Linked DNA regions of Homo sapiens: regions 1, 2, 4 and 5 are each linked to region 3. Evidence: fine-mapped expression QTL. A gene starts in region 3. Each other region holds a variant in brackets. All regions are shown on one strand. Distances are from middle to middle. Region 1 overlaps TRPM6 (transient receptor potential cation channel subfamily M member 6). Region 2 overlaps TRPM6 (transient receptor potential cation channel subfamily M member 6). Region 3 holds the start of TRPM6 (transient receptor potential cation channel subfamily M member 6). Region 4 overlaps TRPM6 (transient receptor potential cation channel subfamily M member 6). Region 5 overlaps TRPM6 (transient receptor potential cation channel subfamily M member 6).

Region 1 (4,121 bases), 31 kb after region 3:
GAGTAGATATGAGTGAGGTGGGGACTGCACTGACGTGGAGTTTGAAAAAGCTCCCTTTTAGAAAGCCTTCCTTTCATCTCTGTTCTAATATCTATGTGTGTATAAAGTAATATGGACACATATTCTTTTTTTTTTTTTTTTGAGACAGAGTCTCGCTCTGCCACCCAGGCCAGAGTGCAGTGGTGCAATCTCGGCTCACTGCAATCTCTGCCTGCCAGGTTCAAGCGATTCTCATGCCTCAGCCTCCTGAGTAGCTGGGATTATAGTTGCCTGCCACCATGCCCAGCTAATTTTTTGTATTTTTAGTAGAGACGGGGTTTCACCATGATGGCCAGGCTGGTCTCGAACTCCTGACTTCAAGTGGTCCACCCGCCTTGGCCTCCCAAAGTGTTGGGATTACAGGCATGAGCCACCACGCCCAGCTAGGACACGTATTCTTATACCATTTACAGCCAAAATATTTTTATATTAGAACTACTCACAAGTAGCTGGGATGTATAGTCCATCCAGTGTCCTCTGCCACTGGACTTGTAATATAGCTTATGGAGGAGCTTGGCTATGATATGGATTCTGTAGAATGGGAGAGAGTTTATTAGGAGGAAGAGTGAGTATCAACATCTCACTTGGATTTAGGGACAGTTCTAGGCTGTGCAACCTGAAACAACACACCCAATGGTAAAACTATGCTTGCAGAATGTGTATCGAATCTTGCTGAGTCACATCTCTTCTCTGACACTCTTTCCAGCTTCCTGTGAAATCTTAGCCAAAGTGGGACTTGATGGGTAAAAATTTTGAAGTTTCGGGAGCTTGGTATTTATTCCATAGGATTATGGTACAAGATATAAAAGTGACTTTTGGCAGATTTAAGAGGATATATCAGTTACATCTTTACTTCCTTGCTAGGGGTTTGTTCATGTAGGGCTTTTGTTACTCAAAGTGAGATTATGGGCATATTCACTTTGCGTGTCGTTTAATGTTCACATTTGGCTTATTTGTGCCTATGTTATCTGTAATAGAAACTGGTAAATGCTTAGCCTGTGTGGGGTTGGTCTTGGCATTTTAATTAGCATTCATGATACTTGAGTATTTCTTACCTGCAGGAACTACTATGGTTACATTGTTTTGTCACATAATTAGAGTATAAAATAATGACACTTTCTTTTTAGTCCCAGAAATCCTGGATTAAAGGAGTATTTGACAAGAGAGAATGTAGCACAATCATACCCAGCTCAAAAAATCCTCACAGGTAAAATTTTCAATTACCTTCTTCTTTTAAAAGCAACACTACCTGATGGACTATTTATAGAAACTTAGAAATATGACTTGTTTAGAAGTTTTGATCATATCTATAAAGTTAGAATTTTCAATGTTTATTTCTTTCACTTTATAAAAATAATACATGATTATTGTAGAAAATCTGGGAAGAACAGGGACCTTGTCCATTTTTACCTTACTCTTACTCCAGTGTCTGTGACAGTGCCTGCCACATAGTAGGCTCTTGATAAATATCTGTGTTTTTGTTTTTTTGAGACGAAGTCTCGCTCTTGTCCTCCAGGCTGGAGTGCAGTGGCGCAATCTCAGCTCACTGCAACCTCCACCTCCTGGGTTCAAGTGATTCTCCTGCCTCAACCTCCCGAGTAGCTGGGATTACAGGCACCTGCCACCACGTCCGGCTAATTTTAGTATTTTTAGTAGAGACAGGGTTTCACCGTGTTAGCCAGGATGGTCTCAATCTCCTGACCTCGTGATCCACCCACCTCGGCCTCCCAAAGTGCTGGGATTACAGGCGTGAGCCACCGAGCGATAAATATCTGTTTAAGGAATTTAATGAAGTACAAAGAAGTTATTCTTAATGCCGTCACTGTTAATATTGTCGTGGATTTCATTCTACTTGATTCTTCTGTTCCTCTTGATGGGAGGATAGACGTTACAGAAATATCTAGTGTTACATCCATTTCAGTGGGTTGGAATCAATAAATTACATTTTCTGAATACTGAATATTCAAAATATTGTGAATGTTTCTTATCCCCAACTAAAGTATCTGTGGAAAATAGTGACTGGTATATTTAAGTACACTGTGCCCAGATTAGATGAACAGGTAATTTCAGTTCCGTTTTCCTTCCATAGACTTTATTTTTATGGAATGCTTTATGAATTTGCATGTCATCCTTGAGCAGGGGCCATGCTAATCTTCTCTGTATCATTCCAATTTTAATATGTGTGCT[A/G]CCGAAGTGAGCGCCCATAGGCTTTTGGATTGAGCAGATAATCGGTAGCAGAATGGAATAATTTGAGTTTGACTACTGAGTTCTTGACAATGCTTTGGAAGCTCTACTTGTAAAACAAAGGTCAAAAAAGCAACTAGTGAAAGATAGGGGAAGAAAGGGCTATGGAAAATTCCTCTGGGTAATCAGGTCTGTGAAATTAAGATTGACATTGCCCTTGGAAAAATTAATTAAAAGGAAAATAGAAGAGTAATATTTTAAGTAAAGGAACCAACCTATTTTTAGATTTTTTTGGGCATTTGTCCTTATATGCCTTTAAGGTTTAGAACTCATAACTATGTGTTATGAAGGGTAGCAAGGTAAGGTTTTTGAAATTCTAGTTCTTTGGAGATGACTGAAATAGTGTTCTTTGCCTTTGTTAAATATTTACTAGTCCCACCCTTATTGAATTACCTATGATTTGTAAGTCTTGTGATTGGAAATTCTCTTTTTACCTGCTTAAGAAAGGTTTATAGTATGCCAAGATAACCTTGTTTTTCCCCTTCATTTTTTATGACATCATGTGGTGGTGACTGCAATGGAATGCAAGTTGATTCAGGTGGCTCATTTTGTGTCTGTGAATAAAAAAATCATTTTTACAATAATCTTGAATCTCAAAAAAAAAGTGATGAAATTACTGAGTCTTTTACTAGCCCATAGACTCAAGAAGAGTATCAACGATTGTAATTCCATGAATGTTCCAAGGCATGATGTACTTTTAGCAAGTGAAAAAACTGTCTCTATATTGTGGGATTGTAGATAAAAGTTAAGGTATGATTATGGCTATTTCTTCTAGCCAGCCTTTTTTTTAGATCCTAGTAAAATTCTCAGAATTGAGGCTTTTTTGCAGTTTTCTTCATTATTGGTGCACAGGAAGTGGGTGATAATTCACTTTTTAAAATATCGATAAAAGTTTGTTTTATTATTTTTGTAGCTCCCAATAAGAAACAAATCTGATACACTTGATTATAACATCTTTTTCCTTCTCATTTTCAATTTACTGTTGAAGGAAAGCTTCTGAGAAAAGGCATTCCCAAAAGGCTGGGACAGGAAGAAATAAAAGTCCTGAATATTAGTTTCTGAATAACTTAGAGCGGCCCTTATTTTAGGAACATTACCTTTTCTTCCATTATTTTAACTAGACTTCCCTGTTAATACTTCTTCACACACACACACACACACACAGACACACACACACACACACACATATTTTGAGACAGGATCTTGCTGTGTCCCCCACGTTGCAGTACAGTGGCATGATCTTGGCTTACTGAAGCCTCGACCTCCTGGACTCAAACAACCCTCCCATCTTAGCCTCCCAAGTAGCTGGGACCACAGGCACATATCAGCACACAGGGCTAATTTTTTGAATTTTTATAAGAGTCAAGGTCTCATTATGTTGCCCAGGCTAGTCTTGGACTCCTGAACTCAAGCAATCCTCTCACCTCAGCCTCACAAAGTGCTGGGATTACAGGCATAAGCCACTGTGCCTGGCCCAAAAATATAACTGATGACAACAGTGCTAACCCCTAAATCTATAAGGTTCTTCTGAATAATAAAAAAGAAAGATTAATAAAGGATAATTTGTAATTATACCAAATGTCCCTTATTTGATAGTGCTTTATGGTTTTAAAGTGGTTTACATATATCTATTTTCTTGATTCTCAAGAAATCTGTGTTATCTTCATAGTTTAATAATAATAGTAGCTACCATTATTGTACACACTGTCTTTACCAGGTACCATAAGACACATTACATATTATTATCTCTGATAATTATTTTAATAACCTTATGAAGCAGATATTATTTTCAGATATAAAAACTGGGGCTTAGAGTAATTGTTAAATCAATGAGATTT
Region 2 (4,119 bases), 70 kb after region 3:
CCACTTCAGAGTATATTCTTTTCAGGATGTGGCAGATCAACCCATTCTCACTTTCTTTCTTCTTTTATAAATGTAAAAATAGAGGCAGGGTCTTGCTATTTTGCCCAGGCTGGCCTCGAACTCCTGGCCTCAAGTGATCCTCCACCTGGGACTCCCAAAGTGCTGGGATTACAGGTGTGAGCCATCATGCCCGGCTCCATTCCCACTTTCAAATTCAGCTTTCTTCTTGAGCTCCTGCTTCCGTTTGCTCCCCCTCATTTGCTCTTCTGGCAGAACTGTCCATAGACACCTTTTCAGTCTGGGGAGCTGATGGGGTGTTTTCTTGTACTGATGTTGCCGGCTCATTCCCCTCTCTGGGTTGTGTCAAGACCATTTATTTCTCTTCCAGGATGCTGCGACCTCAGGTGAAAGAGGAGATCATCTGCATGATTCAGAACACTTTCAACTTTAGTCTTAAACAGTCCAAGCACCTTTTCCAAATTCTAATGGAGTGTATGGTTCACAGGGATTGTGTGAGTATGACGAGTTGATGATTCAACTGACTTAAGAACTGCTAATTTATAAACACTGTAATATTTATTTTCACAATTAAAAAAAAACATGGTGGACACAGGAAGGGGAACAACATACAGGGGCCTGTCAGGGTGGAGGGGGGAGGGAGAAAATCAGGATAAATAGCTAATGCATGGAGATCTTAATACCTAAGTGATGGGTTGATAGGTGCAGCAAACCACCATGGCACACATTTACCTGTGTAACAAACCTGCACATCCTGCACATGTATCCCAGAACTTAAAATAAAGTAAAATTATTTAAAATTAAAATAATAAAAAATAAAAAATGTGGATTTTTCATTTTGATTTTGAGTGTATCTAGCTCTACAGAATTTGATTCTTCGTTGAGTAAACTTGACTTCTTGCTGTCACTGCTGTCCGCACTCTCCATGCTTCAAATACTAGACTCTACTACAGAAAAAGCACTTAGTATAACAATGTTCCAGAAAAGTTATCAGATTTAGTGAAAATTACACAGAAGTATTTTCAGAGGGTAAAGGAACAGCTCCATGTCTTCAATGAACACAGCTTCATGGTGCTGAGTTACATGACTGCCTCACAGCGTCCTGAGTAAATCCTGCAGGAAATCATTGGGAATGTACTGGACAATGGGAAAAGTGAGAATAAACTCTGGGATAAAAAATGGAGCCCACAAACTATGGGCTATTACCATAATGTAGACTCAGGAAAAGTTTTTAGTGTTTTAGGGTACTGTGATAAAAAGATTAATTTATTTAATTAATTTATTTGGTAAAGACAAGGTCTTGCTCTTTTGCCCAGGCTGGAATGCAGTGGTGCAGTCATAGCTCACTGCAGCCTTGAATTTCTGGGCTCAAGTGATCCTCTTGCCTTGGTCTCCTAAAGTGCTGGGATTATAGGCATGAGCCACCATGGCCAGCCTATGAACAAAATGACTTGGATGATATGAATTATCAATTCTTTTTTTTTTTTTTGAGACAGGGCCTCACTCTGTCACCTAGGCTGGAGTGCAGTGGCGAGATCTTGGCTCGCTGCAACCTCCACCTCCTAGGCTCAAGTGATTCTCATGCTTCAGCCTCCTGAGTAGCTTGGACTACAGGTGCATGCCACCATGCCTGGCT[A/G]ATTTTTGTATTTTTTGGTAGAGATGGGGTTTCACCATGTTGGCCAAGCTGGTCTCGAACTCCTGGCCTCAAGCGATCTGCCTGTCTCGGCCTCCCAAAGTTCTGGGATTGCAGGCATAAGCCACTGTGCCCGGCTGAATTATCAATTCATATCAATGACTCAGATGATATGAAGCTGACAATTACAGTAAATATACAGATATGTCATGATTCAAGGTGATCTTTCTAGAATCTGAAGGCTGGAGCAAATTGTATAAGAATTTTGGTAATATTTGAGTACCTGGCCTCAAAAAAAAAAACCAACTGAAGTGTTCTGGCTAGAGGAAGCATGACGAAATCTATGTGGAAAACTCTTTGGGGTTTTAGTTGGCCCAATAACAACAATAATAGCAACCATGTTTCTAATTAGCAGCATGCTTCTAAATGTATTCTTTTCATTTGAAATAGCCCTGTGAGTGAGTTCAGTATGGCAGTGGTTATTTCCAGTTTGGAAATGATGAAGCAGAAGGCTAGAGAATTTAAGGGATTTGCAGTCATGCAGTTAAGAAATGACAGATATGCTCGGACACGTTGGCTCACGCCTATAATCCCAGCACTTTGGGAGGCCGAAGTGGGTGGATCACCTGACATCAGGAGTTTGAGACCAGCCTGGCCAACATGGTGAAACCCTGTCTCTACCAAAAATGCAAAAATTAGCCAGGCATAGTGGCGGGTGCCTATAATCCCAGCTACTTGGGAGGCTTAGGCAGGAGAATCGCTTGAACCCGGGAGGCAGAGGTTGCGGTGAGCCGAAATCGCACCATTGCACTCCAGCCTGGGCAACAAGAGCAAAACCCTGTCTCAAAAAAAAAAAAAAAAAAAAAAAAAAGAAATGATAGATCTGAAACGTGAGTTTCAGAAGAGTTGAAATCTTCTTAGTCTATTGCACTTTCTATTTGCCACAGTAATCAGTAAGTTAAGAAAAGGACAGGTAAAGGGATTGCCCTTATGTTTGCCTCTTCTTGCCATCAAGCAGAATAATTAATAAGCAATGTAATGACCAAGAGGGTCAAGAGAAGGCAGCAAAGGGCTTGCAGGTGATAGGAATTGGGTTGTACAATTGAGGACTGATTTTATTCGTGCACATAGAGGGCGTGTCAGGTGAAAGGAAACAATGTGTGAAGTTATAGAAGCATAGTTTTTTATCTTTATGATACCTTAGAGATTATTCAACAGGTTCCTCTCATTTTATGGATGAGGAGCCTGAGATTCAGCAGCAGCCTCAAGATATTTACCTAGGACTAGCTTGTTAGTGGCATACTTGGGACTAGGTCTTGCCAATCTTGGCTTTTTCATTAAAATAGCTCCTTCTACTATATGAAATGTATTTTAATTTAAAAAGACTGAGATATAGCCATTAATAACAGGTGACTCCCCCCCCCTTTTTTTGAAGCAACAAAAGCAGAGATTTATTGAAAATGAAAGCACACCCCACAGGGTGGGAACGGGTGAGCAAGTGCCTCAAGGGCCCATAGGTGACCCTTTGGAACCATAAGTAACGAACTTACTTGTCTTTAAAAGAGTCAAAGACCGTCTGTGTTGCCCAGGGTACTTGCTCATTGGGTCCACTGTAATTACCTCAGTTATTTTATGACAAACCCTTGAGGATTCATTTCTCGTAAAAAAGCAAGTCTGGCTGGGCGTGGTGACTCGCCTGTAATCCCAGCACTTTGGGAGGCTGAGACCGGAGGATCGCCTGAGCCCAGGAAATTCAAGACCAGCTTGGGCAATATAGTGAGACCTTGTCTCTACAAAAAATTAAGAAAAGAGAAAAAAAAGCAAAAGTCTTAGTTTCCAAGGCTAGGTGAATGAAGGATTTCATTCGTTGTCTCTTTGAAAGGAGACATGATTTTATTTACATCAGAAATTAACATTGAGGTTCTTTTTGTTGTAGCATGTACATAGTAAATTCATGTAATAACATTCTTTCATAAATGTTTCCTCTGGATATGTGGAATTTTTAGTTTTTTCCCCCCCAAGTGCCCATAATTCTTTGTTACCCTATTTAAAAGTTTTCTCTCCTGTAAGTAAAAAAAGGTTTTAAAGAAGAATGTTTTCCTCAATTCATTAGCTCCAGTCTGAATTCTGTGGGTACTCTTTGAAAGCATTTATTTGGTAGTTCCCCAAATGTATGGCTCTCTGTTTTTCACTGTTGTAGATTACCATATTTGATGCTGACTCTGAAGAGCAGCAAGACCTGGACTTAGCAATCCTAACAGCTTTGCTGAAGGGTGAGTATCTGGATGGGGTTGCAATTGTTCCTCATTTACGCTTCTCATGTTCCACAGTACTTTGTGCTTCTTGCGTAGATATCTTGAAAAGAATATATGATTGTTCCTTTCTTTTACCCTAGGCACAAATTTATCAGCGTCAGAGCAATTAAATCTGGCAATGGCTTGGGACAGGGTGGACATTGCCAAGAAACA
Region 3 (4,121 bases):
TTTTCCTGGTGCCCAGCATGATGCCTGACAAACAGTCTATGTTCAGGAAATATTTGTTGGCCTGAATCAAACCACACTAGACTACTAATGAATATTTTAAAATTTAATTTTCACAGCTACCCTGGGCATAGGTATGTTTGTGCCCAGAATAGTTTTCTTTTTATTTATTTATTTTTTGAGATATGGTCTTACTCTGTTGCCCAGTCTGGAGTGCAGTGGTGCCATCATAGCTCACTGCAGCCCCGACCTCCTGGGCTCAAGCAATCCTCTCACCTCAGCCATCCAAGTAGCTGGCACCACAAGTGTAAGCCACCACGCGTGGCTAATTTTTGTTTTTTTTTTTTGTACAGATGGGGTTTTGCCATGTTGACCAGGCTGGTCTCGAAATCATGAGTTCAAGTGATTCTCCTGCCTCGGCCTCCCTAAATGCTGGGATTACAGGCATGAGCCACCATGCCTGGACAAGAAGTTTTATATACAAGTTTGACAACTGATTAAAGTGCTTGTGAAAGATACAGATTCCTGGGCCCCACCCTATAAATCCTGATACAAGAGATCTGGGTAGGGTGGTTGGAGCCTGGGAATCTGCACTTTTGACAAATGCCTCAGATGTTTCTGATACAGCTTGGGAACCAAAGGCAGCTTGTAAACTAGTACATTCAATGCTTTAAGCACTTCACATTGCCCTTGTATTTCAGGCTCTAAATGCCTTGAAGCTTGATCTGAAAAGAATATATGATCATCCTAACATGTAGGTTTACCAAAGATGGTAAACTAGAAGATGGTAGACTTCTTACAAATCTTGAGTTCCAAATGGCTACTCTTCTTGGTGGGTCTGAAGATTTCTGAGAACTCTCTGACCCAGTCACTGTAAGAGACCTAACAAAGAAATTGTATGGAAGACAGAGATCGAGAAGGATTTACTTGCCTTAGAAGAGCTTTCAGAACCTGTTAACTGTTTACAGATTAACGCTTTAAAGAAGATGGGTTAAGGAGAGGAAAGGAGATTAAATGTGTTTATAGAAGAACAACAAATGCCTAGCACTTAGGGAGGCTGAAGTGGGTGGATTGCTTGAGTTCAGAAGTTCGAGACCAGCCTGGGCAACATGGTGAAACTCCGTATCTACAAAAATTACAAAAATTAGCCAGGTGTAGTGGCTTGCACATGTAGTCCTAGCTACTTGCGGGGGCTGAGGCTGGAGGATTGCTTGAGCCCAGGAGGTGGAGGTTGCAGTGAGCCGACATAGTGCCACTGCACTCCAGCCCGGTGACAGAGCGAGACCCTGGCTCAACAACAACAGCAACAACAACAAAAAGAAAAACAACAAAATGCCAATACACATATGAGAGATTACAATTTTCCAATAAACAAAGAAATGCTTATTAAAACCACATTGAGAAATGAGGGGAAAAAACCTGTAAACTGTCTGCAAATGTGAATTCACCAGGCAAAAATTCATAATAAACTAAATGAGTAGGTGTCCCTAATTTTAAGTCGGTTGTCAGGGATGAATGACTAGCATTGTTAATTACACTTGTAATAATGTGAGCATCATTTTGCCTGTGTGCTTTGTGCCACCTCTGCCAACACCCTGGGATCCACCCCAAATCACTGACCACAACCTTAATCAAGACTGCCTAGGCCGGGCATGGTGGCTCACGCCTGTAATCCTAGCACTCTGGAAGGCTGAGGCATGAAGATCGCTTGAGTCCAGAGTTTGAGACCAGCCTGGGCAACATAGTGAGACCCCATTTCTAAAATAAATAAATAAATAAATAAATAAATAAATAAATAAATAAATAAAATTAGCCAGGCACTGTGGTGTGTGCCTGTAGTCCCAACTACTCTCTGGAGCCTGAAGTGGAAGGATCACTTGAGCCTGGGAGGTCAAGGATGCAGTGAGCCATGATCCTGCCACTGCACTCCAGCCTGGGCAACAGAGCAAGACTCCATCTCTAAAAAAAGAAGAAAGAAAGAAAGAGAGAAAGAAAGAAAGAAAGAAAGAAAGAAAGAAAGAAAGAAAGAAAGAAAGAAAGAGAAGATGCCTATCCAGAGGAATCCACCAAAACAAAACAAAACAAACAAAAAAAATGAAAAAAAAACCAGAAATAACAAAACATTTGTATTGTATGTTACACATGAAGCACATTAAGTGATTTCCTTTGTTCATTGTAACCTTGTGAGGGAACTGGATTTTTGTCCCTATTATTCCCATTGCATAGATAAATAAACTGAGGCTTGACATGCCCAATAAGTCACAGGTAGTAAAAGCAGTGCGTTAGCTTAAATCTCTGATCTCCTCACGCCCCACACTGACTCAACAGTAACAATACATTACTACAAAGGATGTCTGTGATGACAGTGGCCATCCCATTTGATCCTCGTTATTCTTCTTTTATCGAAGGAAACTGAGAGTCACCTTCTTTTCTAGGCAGTTAGGTAACTGAAGCCGAAAGGTATTGTGACAGATCCACTGGGCTGTAAAAGGCAGCGTGTGGAGGTGGAGCCCAGAGTTTCTGCCTCCACAGTTAAAAGCTCAGACAGGGCTTTGGGAGCAGGGCCTGCAAATCAAAGATGAAAGAACAACCTGTCTTGGAGCGCTTGCAGGTAAGCTCAGGCTGCTCGACTGGCGGGGAACAAGGACCTTAGGCGATTCGCTAGATCTGCGCCCCCGGCCTTAGATAGAAGTGGGTGGGGCCAGGGACACTACATCTAACGAGGATCTAGAATAGCTAGGATTTATGAAATACCGGCTTTCAAGTTCTCTGGTCTCCACCCAAAGATGATTATCCTATCTAAGGTAGTGTACGCTACTACAGGGCAGGTCCCGCAGCCCCCGTTTCAAGAGCTGGGATGCGGCCATAGCGGAGGTGGTGTCAGAGCGGAAACCTAGCGGGGGTCGGGGGTTCAGCTCGGGGCGGTGGGAAACACCCCGGGAGAGGAGGCAGCTCTGATTCCGCTCCGGGCCGGAGGGAGAGGAGTTCGGAGGTGGCTTGAGCTGAGAATCCGGAGGAGAGAAGGCGCGTTTTGAGCTGCCACGGGCACAGATCTCAGACCCGGACGCTGACTAGCCGGGGGTCGCGGCTTTCCGAGGCGGCTGGAGAAGTGCCCAGACGGCCGTCCCTCCGCGCCCCTGCGCGTCCCCGTGCGCCCAGTGTTCCCCGTGCAGGAGTCCCGGAGCGATGACAGCGCCGGTTACGGTAAACACCCGCCCCGCCGCAGTCCGCTTCCTTCCCCAACGCGGCGCCGCCCGGACTTGCAACCTCAGGAGTCCCCGCTGGCTCCTCTCCACCGCTGGCATATGGCGCAACAGGAAGTTCTGGGGGCTTGGAGAGGGAGGGTGCTCCTGGCTGTTGGGAGAGCACTGGAGACGCTTGGGAGAGTAGTGGAGATCCTGGTAATTTCTTGGTCTCGCCTATTTTGTCTGGACTTTCTCACACTGTGTATGAAAAATAAGTATAATTGAGCACATTGTATTTCAGGAATAGTCCAGGCAGCTTAGCAAACGTTAGCTCATTTCAGCCTGCTCTGATAAGAACATATGCTCTGGAGCCAGGTAGCCTGAATTAGCATCCCAGCTGCATCACTACCTGTGATTTTGGGCGAGTTAACATCTGTTCTTCGGCTTTCTCATCTGGAAAATGGGATAATACGATTTGTAGTTTCAAGATGAATTGAAATGCTACATGCCATTTGCACTTAGAATAATGCCTGACGTATTTAGCAGGTTGTAAGAGTTTGGGATTCTTAACTATTTCATCCTGGCAGTAATCCTATAAAGTCCAAGTATCCTGTCTCTCCCATCTCCACCGGTTTACAGGTGAGGAAAATGAAACCAAAGGAGAAAAGCAGATTTGAGATTTGAACTCAGGTCAGTGCTTTAAGACACGGAGAACATAAAAAAGAAAAAAAAAAAAGAGAAAAAAAGACACTGAGAACATAGATGTTCTAGTCATACACATCATTTGTGATTATTTGTTCTAGGGAGAAATGATCACCTTTAATTGTTAAAGTGGGAAACGAGTTATTCAATTTCTTTCCCCCTGTATACAGATTTTGATGTTTCACTGTCATCTGCTTTGGGTTCTTACAGGACTGATAAAGCGTTAGCTATTTTGGC
Region 4 (4,121 bases), 22 kb after region 3:
TCAGCCTCCTGAGTAGCTGGGATTACAGGCCTGTGCCACCATGCCCAGCTAATTTTTTTTGTTTTTAATAGAGTTGGGGTTTCGCCATGTTGGCCAGGCTGGTCTGGAACTCCTGACCTCACGTGACCCTGTGCATCGGCCTCCCAAAGTGCTGGGATTACAGGCGTGAGCCACTGCGTCTGGCCATCAAAGTATTTTTTTTTAAATGAATGAATAAACCTATTATTCTTAGAGGTATCAATTTTTCTTTTCATTTGTTTCTTCCTTTCGAGGTTTCAATGTTTTAAAAGAGGTGGATAAACTGATAGGATGTATCCTGCCTATGGATTGTAAAGGGCTGGTTCCACACTTCGCAAGCTTCCCAAGGTCACTGAATTTAACGACATCTTCTGGAGGGTGGGTGTGGTAGGCATTAAAGTTGGCTGTAAGTTTAGAAATTGAATGCATTCCAAACTACCCTTGAAAAGTCCCTTTCATTGAGCATAAAATACAGTACATGAAGATTTTATCTTGTGTTGGAACTTTCTTCAGTTGAGTACCAGATTAAACAGGGGATCTAGAATCTACTCATTAAGATGAGGTATGCAGACTAAGATATGCATGTGGGAACTGAGACCATCTGGGGAATGGTATATTCTTGCTCTCACAGACTCCACTCTAGTGTCTACACACAGTCACTTGTGTGCAGTAGTTCTCTGTATGTGGTCCAAGGACTCCTAGAGGTCTCTAAGACCTTTTCAGAGGGTCCTCAGAGTCAAAATTATTTTCATAATGGTACTAAGATGCTATTTGCCCTTTTGACATATTTTCTCATGAGTGTACAGTGGAGTTTTCCCAAGGGTACATGATGAATACACAATGATCTAAAAAGGCCATTAAAATACTCTCCCTTTTCAACTACATGTCTCTGTGAGGCAGATTTTCTTTGTATACTTCAAGCAAAACCACTTATTGCAAAGGATTGAGTGCAGAAGCAAACATGAGAATTTAGCCATCTTTAGCCAGACATGAAAGAGATTTGCAAAAACATAAGACAGTGCTCTGTTTATGAACTTTTTTGGAAAATTTTTGTGTTAGCATGTAACAGGTTAAAATGAACTAATAAGTAAATATTTTTAAATGTCTCAGTTTTAATTTCATATGTGGTAAATATTGGTAGACATAATTTAAATAAACAAAATACTTTTTGGAGTACTTGGTAGTTTTTATGATTATGAAAGGATCCTAAGCTCAAGAAGTTTCAGAACTGCTGCTTTTGGAAATAAGATACTCCTGAGGCTGGATGCGGTGGCTCACGCCTGTAATCCCTGCACTTTGGGAGACTGAGGTGGGTGTATCACCTGAGGTCAGGAGTTCAAGACCAGCCTGGCCAACATGGTAAAACCCTGTCTCTACTGAAAATACAAAATTAGCCGGGTGTGGTGGGGCATGCCTGTAATCCCAGCTACTCAAGAGGCTGAGGCAGGAGAATCGCTTGAATCTGGGAGGTTGAGGTTGCAGTGAGCCGAGATCACGCCATTGCACTCTAGCCTGGGCAACAAGAGTGAAACTCTGTCTCAAAAACAAAAAAACAAAAAACAAAAAACCCCCCCAAAAAAATCAAACCTACTGATAGTGGAATGACAGTGAAACTGCCCACACTATTAAAACTGTTTTTCTCTCTGTCTTATTTTTCACCTTCTAGCCTTCTCTCATTCTTTTAGCAAAGCTTTTGAATTTGTCTAAGTTACACACGTGGTATGAGTGTCCCCCAAATTTTAAGGAGCAAAATCCAGTTGTGTCTTCTTTGTGCTGTGCTATACTGAAAAAAATAAGACAAATAATCTCCATTGTCTATATAAACCTTACTATGAATGTCATAAATAAAATTTAACCTGTAACTTCTTTTTAAAAATGTTTCTATTTTTTATATTATTGGACGTAGACACGGGGTCTCGATATGTTGCCCAGGCTGGCCTTGATCTCCTGGGCTCAATGATTCTCTAGCCATGGCCTCCCAAAGTGCTGGGATTCTAGGCGTGAGCCACCATGCCTGGCCAAACATGTAACTTCTAATAAAGGCTTTATTGTCTGAGA[G/A]GTTGGTAAGTTTCCTAAAAGTCAATTATTTAACAGTATATTTTCCCCAGTCATGGTGGTACATATCTGTAGTCCCAGATTCTCAGGGGGCTGAGGCAGGAATATCACTTGATCCTAGGAGTTCAAGGCCACAGTGTGCTGTGATCACGCCTGTGAATAGCCACTGCACTTCAGCCTGGGCAACATAGCAAGACTCTGTATTAAAACAAAAATAAAAGCATAGTTTCATGAGCCACTCCAAAAAAGACTTTATTTTAGGTCATGTAGTTTATTTGCATGTAGTACTAGTAAAGTTTTGGATAATTTAACAAGATATTTGGAGCATAAATGAAGACCATCTGTGTACATAGATAACAAATTTGTGAGCATTTTGGAGCTTGGAAATTGGAGAGAATTGAGTGCATGTAGGTGGAAAATCTAACCAGATTAGAGTGGTTGTACTACAAATAGGCCCAGCATTTGGTTAAATCTCTGTATTTTACTATCGAGGGACAGTTGTAAAGTACACTCATAAAGGAGACTTCCATTTCCTCTTCCCTTTTTATCAGAATGATTTAACAAGATCTGAAATTATAAATGTTTCATTTGCATGTTTTATTCCCCAGGAGACTGGTTAAACCCTGAAGCGTGAGTGACAACTGAGGAAAAGGATGTCTTTCGCTGCTATTTTGAAATTGGGTTTTGGGGCTGAAATAATGAGGGCTTCAACCAATTTGGAAAGAGGAAGGAAGGGGTATGATATCACTTCACTTTTCACCTTTCTGATGCACTTTACTTGGAAGGTTACTGTTGAGTTCCTCTAATCCCCTATTTGGCTCCAGGAAGATTTATAAATGTTTTACTCCTTAACTCTTGAGTTTATATAATCTAGAAATTCATTCTGACGTTCCATTTTTTTTTTTTTTTTGAGAGGGAATTTCTCTCTCATTGCCCAGGCTGGAGTGCAGTGGCACGATCTCAGCCCACTGCAACTTCCACCTCCTGGGTTCAAGCGATTCTCTTGCCTCAGCCTCCTGAGTAGCTGGGATTACAGGCGCCCACGACTGCGCGTGGCTAATTTTTTGTATTTTTAGTAGAGACAGGGTTTCATCATGTTGGCCAGGCTGGTCTCGAACTCCTGACCTCAGGTGATCCACCCACCTCAGCCTCCCAAAGTACAGGGATTCAGGCATGAGCCACTGCACCAGGCCTCATTCCAAGGTTCTAAATGCCTTTGCTTAGCAAAGCACTATGTGAAAATGTTAGTAAAATTTCTCAACTACTCAGGAGAAATGGCGTTTTAGGGAATTGTGAATTATTTAGTTGACATTCAATTTTTAGAGATGTTACCAAAAATAAATTACTACCAGCTAAATAGTGCTCACCTTTTACCACCAAAGTGAGATGAAGGTGTAAGGTTACTTTGTGTTCTCTGCCTCCTGGACAGACTATTTAGTGGAAAATCAGTCAACACACTTTCTGGTAGTGTTGGTGGAACAGGAACTTGGTTTTTAGATATTTTTAGCCTGGATGCTGTTTTTCTGAGACTGCCCCTCTCGGATCAAGTGTCAGGTAGGTATCCTTGCAGAATTTGGACAGATAGAAGGCCCTGAGCTGACACTTGAAAGTGGATGGGCTGGCTTTGCACTGATGGATTCCCTGAGCCAACAGATTGATTGATGGTACATCCTGATGTCCATCTACCTGGCACTTTGAAGGGATTCTTGCTTCAAGGGAGGCACTCTGAAGAAAAAATAACAAATGTTGATCTGGAGTCTGAAAATATTGTCTATTTGACCCATTCTAGTGTTGTGAATTCCAAGATAAATAAAATAATGCTCTCTTTTGAAGTGGATTACAATAAGGTTAAGAGAGAGAGAGAGATGGTCCAGTGAATGCAAGTAAACATTGTTAGTGCTGTGATGTGTGTAAGAGAGAATGCAGGAAATCAAAATCGGAGTCAGTTATCAGTTCCACTGAAGAAGTAGTTGTTAGATGATAGATTTTTTTTAAGGTGCAAAAAAGTTGTAGAAAGAAAACAAATGACCTGTTATCTTTGTCTCCCT
Region 5 (4,121 bases), 80 kb after region 3:
ACGTGGAGAGAGAGCCAGAGTGAAAGGAAGACATATCCTTGTTTTTTTTTTTTTTTTTTTTTTTTTTGAGATGGAGTTTTGCTCTTGCCCAGGCTGGAGTGCAATGATGGGATCTTGGCTCACTGCAACCTCCGCCTCTTGGTTCAAGTGATTCTCCTGCCTCAGCCTCCTGAATAGCTGGGACTACAGATGCCTGCCACCACACCCGGCAACTTTTCTGTATTTTTGGTAGACGTGGGGTTTCACCATGTTGGCCAGGCTGGTCTCGAACTCCTGACCGCAGGTGATCCACCCGCCTTGGTCTCCCAAAGTGCTGGGATTACAGGCATGGTCCATCGTGCTCCACCTATTCCTTGGCAAATTAGCAGTAAGCAAAAGTGTCCGTGCTCATGTAAATTTAGTTTGTATTGATTTATGCAATATAAAAATGATTTTATTTATTTTTTTTAAACTGTGCCACAGTAAACTGAAAAAAAGTGATGAACTAGGTTAAATATGTTCTAACTAGCAGCAATAAGAGCATTACTTTTGGCATTCCTTGAAAAAAGTAAATTATGCATGTGAAAAAGAAAAATTAAATTATTTACATTCATTCATATATAACCTTATTTCTTGTTCCAAGCTTTGTGAATATTAGTCACAATCTTCATTTCGGAGACCTTGTTCAACACTCTGTGTGCCTTTAAAAATTTACTATAAATGGGCAGTTTAAAAGTGAACAGTTATGAAGAGGTAGTAAGGTGCAATTTAAGTAGTCAAAATAATTTTCATTTAGACTAAGACCCACATACTTGGAAATCTACCACTCAGCCCTCCTGCCAACCAATCATAACACTTGTCTTGGCACAGCCTCATGGTTTTGTTTGTTTGTTTTGCTTTATTGCAATATTCTCTTTATTGTGGTGGTCTCGAACTGAACCCGCAATATCTCTAAGGTATGCCTGTATGGAGTTTCAGATAGTTACTCAGCTTGGCCAAGTGCATATGCTAAACTCTGGGTAGACAAAGACAGACCCTTTCACATAGTCTGTAAAGGAAGACAGACATGCAAGCTGACAACTTCAATACCCTTGTAATATATCCTGTGGGATTTTGGACCATAGGCAAAGTGGATTATAGACACAAAGACCCCCAAATATGCCCTGAAATATAGAAAACACTATACTGTCTATACTGGATTAAGTTCAATTCAAGGAAGAACGTGGCTGCATAAGCCTCATGTTTTGGTATTGAATTTGACTTTGTCATTCTATATTCCTTGTTTTCATTTGTTCTACTTCCTCCCATATTCTTGTTTTACATATGATGTAGTCAACGCAGTGCAAAGTGTTATATCCATTTCAACAAAGAGAGAAGCTGAAAAGCTAACCCAATGTTAATTTTGGATCACACACATTCAGTGTAGACTTTAAGATTTTACTTCTGTTGGAGTAGCTATATTATTTCTAGTTAAAAAACTCTCTATATACATATTTATTTGTTTTTCTACTTGTTTAATATTTTTCTCTTCCAATTAGGAACTCAATATGGAATAAAAAATATTTAAATGTATTTTACTCAAACGTGTGTGTATATATGTTTGTGTGCATGATAAGGAGAGTGAGAGCAAGAGTAAGAGAGAGAGAGCACGCATAGATGGAAGCACACATTTAATGTCTATGAAATGAGAAAACATTAAGGCTAAGATATTTTTCCTTCTGAACTAGCAGATTGTATCAATGGCTGGTCACTTAAATTAATCAGTTTGTAAAGATATTTAAAAGGTATGTCTACCTTCTTGCAATTAATTTGATTATGTTCTAATGGCATGGCAAGAGAAATGAAAGAAGATAACTAAAAGTTAAAAGTCGTTGCATGTTTTTGTTGCAGCATACCCTTCTTTCAGGCTACCGAATAACCTTGATTGACATTGGATTAGTAGTAGAATACCTCATTGGTAGAGCATATCGCAGCAACTACACTAGAAAACATTTCAGAGCCCTCTACAACAACCTCTACAGAAAATACAAGGTAGAGTAATTGAAAAGTGCCCAAGTAAAATTGAGAATGATTAGGAATTGTTGTTTTGGAAAAATGGCCTTGGAAGTTCAGACAAAAATAGCTCCTAAAATGGTCATTTTATTTATGGACATTTGTTATCTGCTGTATGTGAAGTATACTGTACTAAGTGTTGCAGTGTTGGCTTGGGATGCGTAAGGATCAGAAGTTTAGAAACTCTTAAACAGATTTATGAGTAACTAGCCATAATACAAAACAGTATATAATACATGCTATAGTGACATAGAAATAATGTGATGAGGCAGGTTAGAGGGAGAGATGACTAGTTCTTTTTTTTTCTTTTCTTTTTTTCTTCC[G/A]AAAATACTGATATCAAAAGCTTAATCAGATTAGATATGTAAACTCATCCTAGTCCATAGTCTGGAGATAACAAACTTGGTATAAGCATGTAGTGATTATATTGAAAGATGCGTGTAGAATATCCTTAAAAACATAAGTGATACATATTTTATTTTCCATGATAGTTTTGAGAATCTAGGAATGTAAAATTAGAGTTGTTGGTTAGTAGTTAGCAGAGGAAACATTGCCTATTTCTTGAAATTGCCATTATGGATTAGCAACCTGAGGAGACTCATTCTTATTAGAAGATGAGGGGAGGATTAGAAAATGTAGTTTTGGGTATTTTTGTTGAGAGAAGAGAAGGAGCAGTAAAGGGCACAGCCTTTGGATATTCAGGTATGTTTCTGCTGTGACAAGGAGACCTTTGTTGCTGGAGAATCAGTGTCATATGGTTTTAAGGGAGGAGACTGGAAAGGCAGTTTGGGGTAAGATTCCATAAACAGCCTAGAATATCAAGCTACTTGGGATCCTTTATAAAGAATCAAGTGACGTGAAAGCCCAGCTTGGCTTTCAGAAATGAAAAAGCAAAACAGGAAAGCCAAATCTGACACAGAAAAATGTTCTCTATTAAGATTTCAAAGGCATAAGGATACACTTAAGGAGGTATCAGCTACTTCATTTAAACAGAACAGACATTGCTGTGAGGTTCCCAGTGACAAGTAGGAGGACTGACTGTGGCGCTGGTGCAGCCCAGTGTGGAGCTTGCTAGGGAAGTTCCCTTAGTGCCCTTTCTTTAAATGGCCTGCCAGTACGAAGTCACCCATTTCTTGGATTGTCTTCCAGTGGAGTGCAGAGTTTATTGTGTGTCATATTAAACTAGACTGTAGTAGTTACAAGCACATGATTTTGGAGTCAAGAGACATCTGGCTAGGACTGCCTCCAATTTTGCTCTTTAGTAGCTGTGTAATCTTGAACAATAAGCTTAACTTCTCTGTGCATGTTTTCTCATCTATAAATGGGAATAGTAATGACCCTTTTATAAATTTGTCAGAAGGATTAAATAATATATGAAAAATCCATGTTCCTGATACACAGAGGGTGCAGAGTCATCGTTAGTAATAATGGTCATTATGATAATTACTATAATGACACTATTAATTCATATTACAATAGTAATAATAATTTGGGTGTTGCCTTTAAAAAGTCTTCACCTCATCATTTCTATGTTCAATTTTTATCAACAAAACAGAAACTTAAATAAAGCAGTTCAAAGCCTGTAGTTTGGGCTGGGCATGGTGGCTCACGCCTGTAATCCCAAGACTTTGGGAGGCCAAGGCAGGAGGATTGCTTGAGCCCAGGAATTCGAGACCAGCCTGGGCAACACGGTGAGATCCAGTCTCTAAATAAATAAATAAATAAATAAATAAATACAATAAATTTTTAAAAAGCCTATGGTTTTTTTTTCTCAGTTGTATTTTTTAATGGAAAATTTTAAACATACAAAAATAGAGAATAGTATAATGAATCCACATGTACCTATCACTCAGTTTCAATAATAGCAACAATGGCCAACCTCCTGCCCCCAGATTATTTAAGATCAAATCTTACATCATATCATTTCATTCATAAATTCTTGTGAATATCTCTAAATGAAATGTACTTAGGAAAATGTAATTATGATGCCATTATCATACATAAAAAATGAATAATTCCTTAATATAATCAATGAATAATTCCTTAATATAATGAAATATCCAATCAACATTCACAATGCTTTCTGATTCAGC

The links.
Region 1: its variant is fine-mapped to the expression of TRPM6 in whole blood (INTERVAL, PIP 0.99).
Region 2: its variant is fine-mapped to the expression of TRPM6 in whole blood (TOPMed, PIP above 0.99).
Region 4: its variant is fine-mapped to the expression of TRPM6 in whole blood (TOPMed, PIP above 0.99).
Region 5: its variant is fine-mapped to the expression of TRPM6 in whole blood (INTERVAL, PIP 0.98).

What each region holds. Positions count from the first base shown.
Region 1 is chr9:74,855,794-74,859,914 of GRCh38, reverse strand. TRPM6 (transient receptor potential cation channel subfamily M member 6) reads left to right here. Exons shown (of 39, transcript NM_017662.5): 2 at 1,167-1,246. It also overlaps the pseudogene RNU6-445P. Among named protein-coding and RNA genes, the nearest start is that of TRPM6, 30 kb to the left of the region's middle. The variant A/G (reference allele first, on the strand shown) is at 2,227.
Region 2 is chr9:74,816,697-74,820,815 of GRCh38, reverse strand. TRPM6 (transient receptor potential cation channel subfamily M member 6) reads left to right here. Exons shown (of 39, transcript NM_017662.5): 9 at 389-512; 10 at 3,852-3,924; 11 at 4,047-4,119. Among named protein-coding and RNA genes, the nearest start is that of TRPM6, 69 kb to the left of the region's middle. The variant A/G (reference allele first, on the strand shown) is at 1,655.
Region 3 is chr9:74,886,311-74,890,431 of GRCh38, reverse strand. It overlaps TRPM6 (transient receptor potential cation channel subfamily M member 6), which reads left to right and starts at 2,511. Exons shown (of 39, transcript NM_017662.5): 1 at 2,511-2,608. The coding sequence starts at 2,576. RefSeq lists an enhancer at 3,125-3,419.
Region 4 is chr9:74,863,936-74,868,056 of GRCh38, reverse strand. The region is part of intron 1 of TRPM6 (transient receptor potential cation channel subfamily M member 6); the gene reads left to right. Among named protein-coding and RNA genes, the nearest start is that of TRPM6, 22 kb to the left of the region's middle. The variant G/A (reference allele first, on the strand shown) is at 2,077.
Region 5 is chr9:74,805,923-74,810,043 of GRCh38, reverse strand. It overlaps TRPM6 (transient receptor potential cation channel subfamily M member 6), which reads left to right. Exons shown (of 39, transcript NM_017662.5): 14 at 1,870-2,010. Among named protein-coding and RNA genes, the nearest start is that of TRPM6, 80 kb to the left of the region's middle. The variant G/A (reference allele first, on the strand shown) is at 2,355.